2 separate regions of the Homo sapiens genome follow, and region 1 is linked to region 2. Evidence: fine-mapped expression QTL. A gene starts in region 2. The other region holds a variant in brackets. All regions are shown on one strand. Distances are between the middles of the regions. Region 1 has its middle 22 kb from the start of CFAP161. Region 2 holds the start of CFAP161 (cilia and flagella associated protein 161).

The links. PIP is the estimated chance that this variant, and not a neighbour inherited with it, causes the effect.
Region 1: its variant is fine-mapped to the expression of CFAP161 in whole blood (TOPMed, PIP above 0.99).

What each region holds. Positions count from the first base shown.
Region 1 is chr15:81,109,586-81,114,969 of GRCh38, reverse strand. It overlaps a transcript of CFAP161 not described here. Among named protein-coding and RNA genes, the nearest start is that of CFAP161, 22 kb to the left of the region's middle. RefSeq lists an enhancer at 3,206-3,365. The variant T/C (reference allele first, on the strand shown) is at 2,379.
Region 2 is chr15:81,131,886-81,137,269 of GRCh38, reverse strand. CFAP161 (cilia and flagella associated protein 161) reads right to left here and starts at 3,000. Exons shown (of 7, transcript NM_173528.4): 1 at 2,872-3,000; 2 at 1,911-2,000; 3 at 522-754. The coding sequence starts at 2,940.

The DNA.
Region 1 (5,384 bases), 22 kb after region 2:
CATTTTTTTTATTTTAAAAACCCTTGCGCCTGTAATCCTAGGACTTTGGGAGGCCGAGGTGGGCGGATCACAAGGTCAGGAGATAGAGACCATCCTGACCAACATGGTGAAACCCTGTCTCTACTAAAAATACAAAAAATTAGCTGGGCGTGGTGGTGGGTGCCTGCAGTCCCAGCTACTCGGGAGGCTGAGGCAGGAGAATGACGTGAACCCGGGAGGCGGAGCTTGCAGTGAGCCGAGATCGCGCCACTGCACTCCAGCCTGGGCGACAGAGCGAGACTCCGTCTTAAAACAAACAAACAAACAAAAACCCTCGTCTTCCTCTACCTCCATGAATATGCACTTAGTTTACTATGACATGCATATTCCCATTGCGATGTTCTATCCCCAAACATACATCTTTTCTTTCAGAGAGCCTCTCTCTGTTTGTTTAGATTGACATGTGAAAGAAGAGTCAATCAATGTGGCAAACTTCTTTGTTGTGTTATTTTAAGAAATTGCCATAGCCACCCTAATCAACCCCCACCCTCAACAGTCAGCAGCCAACAACAGCAAGGCAAGATCCTCCACTATCATAAAGATTACAACTCACTGAAAGCCCAAATGGCTCTAAGCATTTTTTAGCAGTAAACTATTTTTAAATTAAGATATGTACATTTTTTAGACATAAAGCCATTGAACACTTAATAGACCACAGTATAGTGTAAGTATAAATGTTTATATGCACTGGGAAAACAAAAATCTATGTGACTCACTTTAATGCAATATATGCTTCAGTGCAGCAGTCTGGAAACAAACCCACGTTATCTCTGAGGTATGCCTGTATGTTGTAGCAGCTCTGTCTATTTTTTCTCCATGCCCAGGGCTCATTGTTTTTGTTTGCTTGTTTGCTAGTATATTTGTTTGGCAACTGTGGTATTATAAGAAACATATTTGGTTTTTCTTCTTTGTTCTTGGCACAGAGCTCCTAAAACCCTTGGAATTTCCTGAATGATGAGAATGTCTTTTGTTATTCATAATAAGCTCCTTTTGATCACACTGAATTTATACGAATCAGGTAACTTAGGGTGGAGCCCTTAGATAGCCTCGTGATGGGACTGGCCACCAGAAGGACCAAGTGATTCGAGAGTGGAGACTTTTAGCTCCACTGACCCAGCTCCAAGAAGAAAGGTGAGGGGCTGGAGATTAAGCTCTGAGAGAACTCTTGAACAATAAATGTTGATGTGCTCCTGGGCTGGTGAACACATCGAGGTGCTGGGAAGGTGGCACCCAGAAAAGTCATGGAAGCTCTGCACCCCTTTCCTCACTCCTTACCCTATGCATCTCTTCCATTTGGCTGTTACTGAGTTGTATCCTTTATAACATCCTTTGTAATAAATCAGTAAACGCAGAGTACTTTCCTGGCTCTATGAGTCATTCTAGCAAATAATTGAACTTGAGGAGGGGGCCATGGGAACTCCTGATTTTACAGCCAGAAGTATGGGTGGCCCAGGACTTGCACTTGGCATCTGAAGTGAAGGCAGTCTTGTAAAACCGAACGCTTTTAGCCTGTGAAATCTGACACTAACTCCAGGTAGTTAATGTCAGAGTGGAATTTAATTGTTGGACACCCAGTTGGTGTCTGGAGAATCAATAATTGGTTGTTAGTGTTGGAAAACACTCCAGTGACCTTGGCTAGACTAGTTTGCTGAAGTCTATTTCCTGGACACTGTGCAGTCTCTGGTGTTACTCATTAGAGGGCACAGACTTGGGCATGAGCAGAGTCCCTTGACTCCCCAAATGAATCTTAACAAGATAAACAAAGTAACATAAAGAATCATCTCACAACTTACAACGCAGATGAATTTAAAAGCCAGGTGATAATAAAATAATAAATATGCAAGGGATTTTTTAAATTCTCCTTTTATTACTTTTTACTCTTTTTATCATAAAATATTCATTTTACATGTGATTATATCAAGTTTTAAATTTACATTCCTCAAAAACTCTCAAAGCCAAGATTAAAACAGAAATGCACTCATACATTATTGGATGCTGTGCAATTTACTCAGTATTACTTAGCAATAAATATCCCCTTAAAATCAGGCCACCACTCACCTCGCTTTAAAAGTATTATTTTGACATAAACTAGCTATATACTAGAAAACTTAATTTGCTATTGTTTTCTTTTTTATGATTTATGTATTTATTTTAGGGTCTCAGGTACATTAAATTGGATTATGACACACTCTCAGCAGTGGTCCTCTAGTTATTTAGCCGGTTATTTTTAAATAATGTAATAAGCACTTGTAAACCTATAACCCCAAAATAAAAGCTAAGATCTTGATAATAATCTACATCTAAATATAAGAGTCTTTCATTCCCCATCCCTCCCTACC[T/C]CCAGCCAAGGTAACCATCTCCTAAATCCTGTGTTCATTATCCACTTGCTTTTCTTTTTATATAGTTTTATTATACCTATATGTAATCTCAAAATTATGTTTTAATTTTAAGTTCATAAAGATATAACATGCTCTATGTATTGTTTTCATTATTTGATGAAGCTCTTGGGAAAATTTAATTGGAGCCTTTCATTACTTGTAAAACATCTGGCAGGAAAGAAAAGTGAAAGAAAAACTTGGGAATAATCATTTTTAGAAAAGAGAAGTGGGACAAAATTCAGATATTAGGAAAGATAAATACAGGCTATTGTCTTACTTTCCATAGTTCGGAAAGTTTAAAAGTTCTTGTTGGATGACAAATGTAAGTCATCACAGTGTAGTAAAGAAAAAAAAAAAACAGATTGAAGCTCCTTTCACTCGGCTTGCGCAAGTATTTTTGTCTCTGAGCCTCAGCATCTTCATCATTAAAAACAGATTAAAGATATTACTGGTAACTCTCGGGAAAGTATTTCCAAAATAATCTGCAATATGTTAATAGGTGTGAAAGGGGAAAGGGTTCTATGGTCAAATAAATTTGAGAAATGCTGAGTTAAATAGGTTTCTTGATTGCAGATCTTCTCAGATCCTTGAATTAATGGCCTGCACTATAAATCTACAAAATGGCAATAATCCATACAACACTTCCTAAGCTAATTTCAACATCAAATCCTTTTCTTTAGAATCACCTTTTAAAACTGCTATTTAAGGAACAATGACTCAGAGACTTTTTGAAACTTAAATGACATAATAATAGAAATGATGAATAGGATTTGGACATGCAGATGCAAGAACAGAGGTAAGCACTTTCCAGGCAGAGGAAGGAGGATGAGGCCAAGCACAGAAGCAAGAAAGCAAGGGCCAGGAGGGACACAGGGTGATGAGAGGCAGAGGGGAGATGATGGGAAAGTACCTTCAGCATCGAGGCAAGAGTTGGTGGTTTTCTTCTGCAAGTAGTGGAGAGCCCCTGAAACTTTCAGAAGAGGAAATTGACAAGGGACAGAGAGTAGAGCTTTCGGAAGGTTGCTGGGGCTACAGGCCATTGCCTGGATTTAAAGCAGACAGGCCAGGGTAGGGGGTCAGGAAGCCTAGTTAAAGATAGCCCCAGGAGAGGTGATGCCGTGTGCTGACTTAAGCAGTGGCAGCGGGGATAAGGAGGTGGAACTAAATAAGAAAAGAATCAAAAGTGATATTGTCAGGTCTTGGAAAAATGACACTGCAATGGGCAAATCCTTTCAATTGTTCATTCAACCAAAATTCACTGTGCGTCAAGCACTGTGCTCAGCCTTCTGGATGCAGTGGGAAATAAGATACTCATGGTCCCCGCCTTTGTGGAGAGTCAGAAGGAGAAGACTGTTCTGAACAAGTAGTTACATGTGTAAGGTGTGTTGCCGAAGGGTCAGTACAGGGAGGATTTCTCTGAAAGGAATTCAGCAATGTTTTCCCACTAAATAACAGTCCTTTGAAAAAGCAGACAGGATATTGAAAATAATCCAGTTTAACAGAACTACATAATCATTTTTTAATAGCTCATCTGATCAAAGGCACGTATTCCTATTCTCTGCAAAGAACATAGAGTGATGTCTCTACATAGAAAGGGTCTCCTAGTCTTTTTTGTCTCCATCTATTTTTGCCTTCAGCTTCTAGCAGACCCCTGGGGGAAAGAATATCACACCAACAATGCACCTTTGCTTCTCCGCAGCCCAGCATGGCCACCAGAGCCCAGCATTCGTCCCCAGGAACAGGACTATGAGCCTAAGGTCTTGCATCCCCTTTTTAGTGCCCTTGATCATCTGGTGGTCAGTCTCCAGTCCCCTTCCACCGAAGCTGACCACTTGGGTAATATGCCTGCTTATACTATGAAATCCTGAGAGCGGAAGAGATTTCTTACTATTTACTTTCTCCACTGGCTTCTAAAAAGGGAAACCCTTTTGTAGTTAACACTCTGGTGGGTATGGGAATGCCGGCATGGACCCAGAGTAGTGTTTAGTCTCAGTCTGCCTAAGAGAGTGAAAAGAAATGAAGTTTCCCATCTGTGGTGATGCATTCTCCAGAAGCACCCAGAGGCAAGGGTGACCAGGAGAACAGCACCCTCCTGGAAATTCACAGATATCCTGGGGAGGGTTTCAGACTTCTAAGTGGCATAAAGGGGATGGAGGGAGTGGGGGGCTTCAAGTCATTTATTCTAGATATCAAAAAACATAGAGACCTTTAACTGATATTTTCGTTATAGGAGGATGCTGTCCTTCAAAATCACCAGAAAATTTTTTAAATTTTTGCCCCCTTTTAAGCAGGGGAGACTTCTTTTAAACAAAAGCAAGACAGAATTCAATTACATAAAACAAATATGAGAGGTCTTCAAAAAGTTCATGGAAGACACATCTTATGAAAAAACTATACATGGATTTAAAAAAATTTTGCACCAAAACAAACTCACACTAACCTGTACTGAATGTCTGAACAGGATCTATTTTGAGGCACTAAGAAGGATAAGACATCAGTTTGCAAAGATCTCGTATCAGAGCTACATGGATTCTGCTAAAATTGGACCAAGAACAAACATCAAATTTATGCAGAAATTTGGGTGGAAAAATGGTGAAATCACTGATGCTTTATGAAAGTTTATGGTAATAATGCCCCAAAGAAATCAGCAGTTTAAAAATGAATAATTAATTTTAATAAGGGATGAGGCAATGTTGAAGATGAAGCCTGCAGTGGTAGACCATCCACATCAATTTGGAAGGAAAAATATTATCTTCTTTATGCCCTGATTAAAGAGAATTGACATTAACAGTAGAAACAATAACCAACATCATAGACATCTCAATTGGTAACTTACGCAATTCTTTTTTGAGATAAGGTCTTACCCTGTCATCTAGGTTGGGGTGCCATGGTGCAATCATAGGTCATCACAGCCTCAAACTCCTGGACTCCAGTGATCCTCCTGCCTCAGCCTCCTGAATAGCTGGG
Region 2 (5,384 bases):
ATTAGTAATAGTTTTTAATTGTGATCATGTATCTATTTCTTCTCTAAGGATTTAATTGTTCATTTTCAAAATCTCTTCAAATACATTTTTAATGGACAGTTAATTTTAAAAGAGAAAATCCCATCTAGTGCCACATTGTATTAAACTACACGTTTTTATTGTAAAAAAAAAAATAGCCGTATTAAGAACAATGAAAACACTCAAATGAGCTCAAAAAGTTCCAAAATGTTATAGGGAAAACCTACTTTGCTTCCAGGCAGAATATGGATTTAATTCCCTGGATCCTATACTCATGATTTAAGCATTTTGAATTGAACACAATTATCCTGCTGTCTAAGGTAAAAAGGGATTGTAAAGTTCCTTTGACAATAATTCTCAAGGTAAGCAAAGCAAGATGAAAATCACGAAAAATGTTCACAAAACCTTTCCCTCCACTCAGTGGCTCCAATACCCAGGAATCTTTAAGCTACAAGTGAAACATATTTATGATGAAAATGAACTGAAAATTAAAGTCTCTTTACCTCAAAATGATAAAAGTGTTTCTGCCAATTGGGGTCTTGGCTTGAACTGCGCTCAGGCCACAGGGTACCTCTAATTCGTCTTTCAGATGGGACTGAATTTCATCTGGAGTCATACACAGGCTCAGGTCCCCACGCAGAAACACATCAGCTTCTGTGTCAGGATCATCAGGATTCACAAGCATCACTTTGTCACCGTAATGAATATAGCCATCTTCAGTTACGGAAAGTTGCATCTACAATTTTGATAGTAGTTTATTACATAAACCATGCAATTCCTCAACAGTTACTGCCAAGGCAATTTTCTTCCTTCTCGGACTAGTACCCATTTCATTCAGGATTTCACTTGGATTCCCTCGAACCCTTAGTTCCTTCTTCCTTTCCCTTCCCCTTTGCCAAGGCAAAGCTCCCAATAATTCCAAATGAAGTCGAATAAAGCTGGTTAAAATCACATGGATTTACTCATTATCCTAGAAATTCAACATTCATTGAAAAATTTGTCGATTACCAACTAAGGGGCATTTTACTTATTTACATATTAACTCATTTATTTCTTTATTTGTAAAATGCAGGTAAACATGATTTAGGGCAGACTGTTTATGTTTCTAAAATCTTAGAAGAATTTAAAACATTGCAAATTGTTTTTAAAAACTGTTATTTTCCAAATGGTAACTCAGTTATGAAATTTTTTTCTTGCTTAACATATACTCACACCAAGTTCAACAGAATTTTGAAAACAATGTCTGAATTTAAAGTTACCGGTCTCAATAAACATACGTGTGCATGTGTCTTTATAGCAGCATGTTTTATAATCCTTTGGGTATATACCCAGTAATGGGATGTCTGGGTCAAATGGTATTTCTAGTTCTAGATCCCTGAGGAATTGCCACACTGACTTCCACAATGGTTGAACTAGTTTACAGTCCCACCAACTGCGGCACTATTCACAATAGCAAAGACTTGGAACCAACCTAAATGTCCAACAACGATAGACTGGATTAAGAAAATGTGGCACATATACACCATGGAATACTATGCAGCCATAAAAAATGATGAGTTCATGTCCTTTGTAGGGACATGGATGAAGCTGGAAACCATCATTCTGAGCAAACTATCGCAGGGACAGAAAACCAAACACCGCATATTCTCACTCATAGGTGGGAATTGAACAATGGAGAACACATGGACACAGGAAGGGGAACATCGCACACTGGGGCCTGTTGTGGGGTGGGGGGAGGGGAGAGGGATAGCATTAGGAGATATACCTAATGTTAAATGACGAGTTAATGGGTGCAGCACACCAACATAGCATATGTATACATATGTAACAAACCTGCACGTTGTGCACATGTACCCTAAAACTTAAAGTGTAATAAAAAAAAAAAAAGTTACCGGTCTCAAGAGATTCTGTTTTAGTCTTCTACTTCTCTGTATGAGAAGTTTCCCCTTGTCTCTCTTCTCTAAGAAGTCTTTCATGAGCTCCTAAACAGAAAATCAACAAAAGTAGCCCTGAATAATATAGATGTTAGTATTAATAACTTTTAGGTCAGAAGCTCTTCCAAGTTGAAAAAGCAAAATTTGAGTACAAAAAAAGAGATGTGAGCATAATTGGAATGATGGAACGTTTTTAGCACTACTTTAATATTTTTACTACATTATAGAATGTTTAGAAAAATGAGAAAGGCAAAACAAAGAAAAAGAAACATCACCAGTAATTACTCCAGCCAGATACCATCCTAAATGACATTTGGAGGCCATGTCTCCCCTGCTGGGGTTTCCCTTGACCGTATGATGACTGACACTAGAAAGTTCACCCCTCCCCAATCTGACCCGTATACGAATGGCTCAAAGCCTTGTTAAGACCACCCTTGGGAGAATACGAGGCAGTGAGTGAGTACAACGTCAATAAAAGGAATACTCAGGGTCATTTAAGAGGGCAAGCGTGGCAGGGTTGGAGTGGGGAGGGATATTATTTCTACCTAGAACCTGTGTCCTCACCTGGCCCGCAGCCTGAGACTGTAAGACTCTAAGGAATACGGGGGACTTAGTGGGGCTCTAGACTAAGCGGGAGACACAGGCCAGGGGCTTGAGAGTCAAGGCATCTGACTTTGGGAGGCCAAGGGACCCAGAGAAAGAAAAGTCAGGGTGCTCGGAGTAGAGGTCAGTGAGACCTGGGTTTGCAGTTCGGCAGGTGAGATTCCTTGGGAGTTTAGAGAAGTGGGGGATTTTAGAGGTATTCGCTGTATGCTGGGAGAGAGAGGAGGCTTGAGGCGCTCAAAGTAGGAGACTGAACTTAGAGCAGGGTCTGGGAGTTCCTGAGCTGCGGGTCTGCGCCTGGCCACACCCTGCGTACCTCCTCCAGGTAGACATCCTCATTCCAGTTGCCTATCCGGACTCCCGGACCATACACGTTCTGCGCCATCGCTCCCTGCTGTTCAGCAAGTGGGCCTCCCTCCGACACCATGCGTTAGCGTGGCGCGTCGCCATGACGACCCGGCCCCAGGCGATTGGTCAAGGTCTGGGACCCTGCTGGCCAATAAGCGACAGCGCGCACCCTCGCCCTGGGGCGGGAGATGGGGCGTCTGGGTCAGCGGCTGTCTGTGGCCCTCCAGCCCGCCCCACTTCCACCTCTTAGATTTCCTTAACTGCAGGGTGGGCGAGAGGGAAAACCCTGGCTGACAAAGTGCTTCCGAGAGAGAAATTTAAAGCTTTCTTTCTATTAGAATCTAACCGAAAAGTGCTATCGAGTACCCCTTGCTTGTCGAGGCAACAAAGAGGAGCTTTTAAATGGAAGCACGGCTTGCTTGCAGCCTATTTTTTGTAATCAGCAGCAGCAGCAGCAGCAGCAGCAGCAGCAATTTCGCCCTAATCATAAAACAATACCTGCTCAATGTACACATTTGGAAACCAAAATCGCATAGAAAGAAGAAAGGAAAATTAATAATTTCAGGGCCTTAAAAGTAAGAAATATACCATGTTAGTATATTTCTGTTTATAGGTTTCTGAGGTTGTCCATATTTTTGCGGACTTGACAGCATCCTCCCTCCCTCCCTCCCTTGCTCCCTCCTTCCCTGGGTCTCAAAGTTAAAGGACGAACCTGTGATTTGCAGGAACTCTTAAGAAAACCAGACTCTGCTGTAGCCAGCATTAATAAAACAAAATATTATTTTCTGGGGAGGGGAGGGATACCAGTTACTGTAGGACTACCGGAGGCTTGATGCAGATTGAATGCATTCAGTAATTTACCTCTATTTAGTGTCTAGTAAGACATGACTGAAATGGAAGACAGGAGCCTCCGCTCCCTTCAGCAAACCCAGTCTAAAAGAAAAGATAGTTCATGAAAACGAATTACTTAAGGAAGACTGTGGAAAAATGCAATTAAAGATGTGCTGATGGGCTGGCGTGGTGGCTCAAGCCTATAATCCAGCACTTTGGGAAGCCGAGGCAGGAGGATCACTTGAGCCCAGGAGTTCTAGACCAGCCTGGGCAACATAGTGAGACCCCATCTCCAATTTAAAAAAAAATACATATATATATATATATATATATATATATATATATATATATATATATATGCTGATGAAGGGCCATGGAGTTGAAGGATCCTTTCTGTCTTGAGGAACTGTGAGAATGGGAATTGGATGGCCTTTGAGTGATGGGAGAGGGGCTGCTTTGGAGCTGAACTGGGAAGGATTTGAACTGGCAGGCTGAAGTGTAGAATAAAAATAGGAACATTCCCACATTCTGATGAATCCACCAGCTCTGTCAATATATCACCACATTCGAGGATACTTCTGAAGGACACATAGGACAAAGCAGTTAGATCAGATAGTATACCACTAACTGCATTTGATAAATTCAGAAACTGAGACTCAAAGAAGCTAGCAGTCTAAATTCAAACTGCTAAAAGTTGCTCAAAGAAAGGACTCAGTCCAAACTTTCCGACTCCAAAGTCATGTTTGTTTGTTTTTCCTTTTAAGTATTTTTCATATTCCTCATAAAATCAAGAATAAAACAAAGCAGCTCTAGTCTCTACATTTTTAACAAGGTTCTAATGATTGGGTCATTCAGTAAGTCCTTACACTGATACAGCTTTGCTCCCACCTACTTCCTTAGTGCTATTTTTGACAAGTATATTACATTTCTATATATAATAGACCCAATAATACAATTATACATAGTGTTTTATACAATTGCTTTAAATCACTCAGGAGAAGAAATATCTTTATTGGTGCTCTATGGTATTTTTCTATGAACACAAATTACTGCTTTGTGTTGTTTTCAACCTGAATAACTTCCTTCCATATTTCTTATAAATCAGGTCTGCTAGCAACACATTCTCTTGGTTTTTGCTTACCTTAATAAGATGCTTTTTCTGGATACATGATTCTTTGTTGATAGCGTTTTTTTCTTTCTTTCAATATTTTAAATATGCCATCCTACTACCTCTGGACTCCCTTATTTCTTTTTCTTCCAAGACAGAGTCTCACTCTATCAACCTGGCTGGAGTACAGCAGCACAATCTCGGCTCACTGCAACCTCTGCTTCCCAGGTTCAAGCAATTCTCATGCCTCAGCCTCCTGAGTACCTGGGGCTAAAGGCATGTGCCACCATGCCTGGGTAATTTTTGTATTTTTAGTAGAGATGGGGTTTTACCAGGTTGGCCAGGCTGGTCTTGAACTCCTGACCTCAAGTGATCGGCCCTCCTCAGCCTTCCAAAGTGCTGGGATTACAGGCATAAGCCACCCTGCCCAGCCATGGCCTCCATTATTTCTGATGAGAAATCAGCTATTAATCTTATTTTGCTTCCCTTACACATACTCTTGCTGCTTTCAAGATTTTTTTTGTCTTTGTCTTTAATATTTT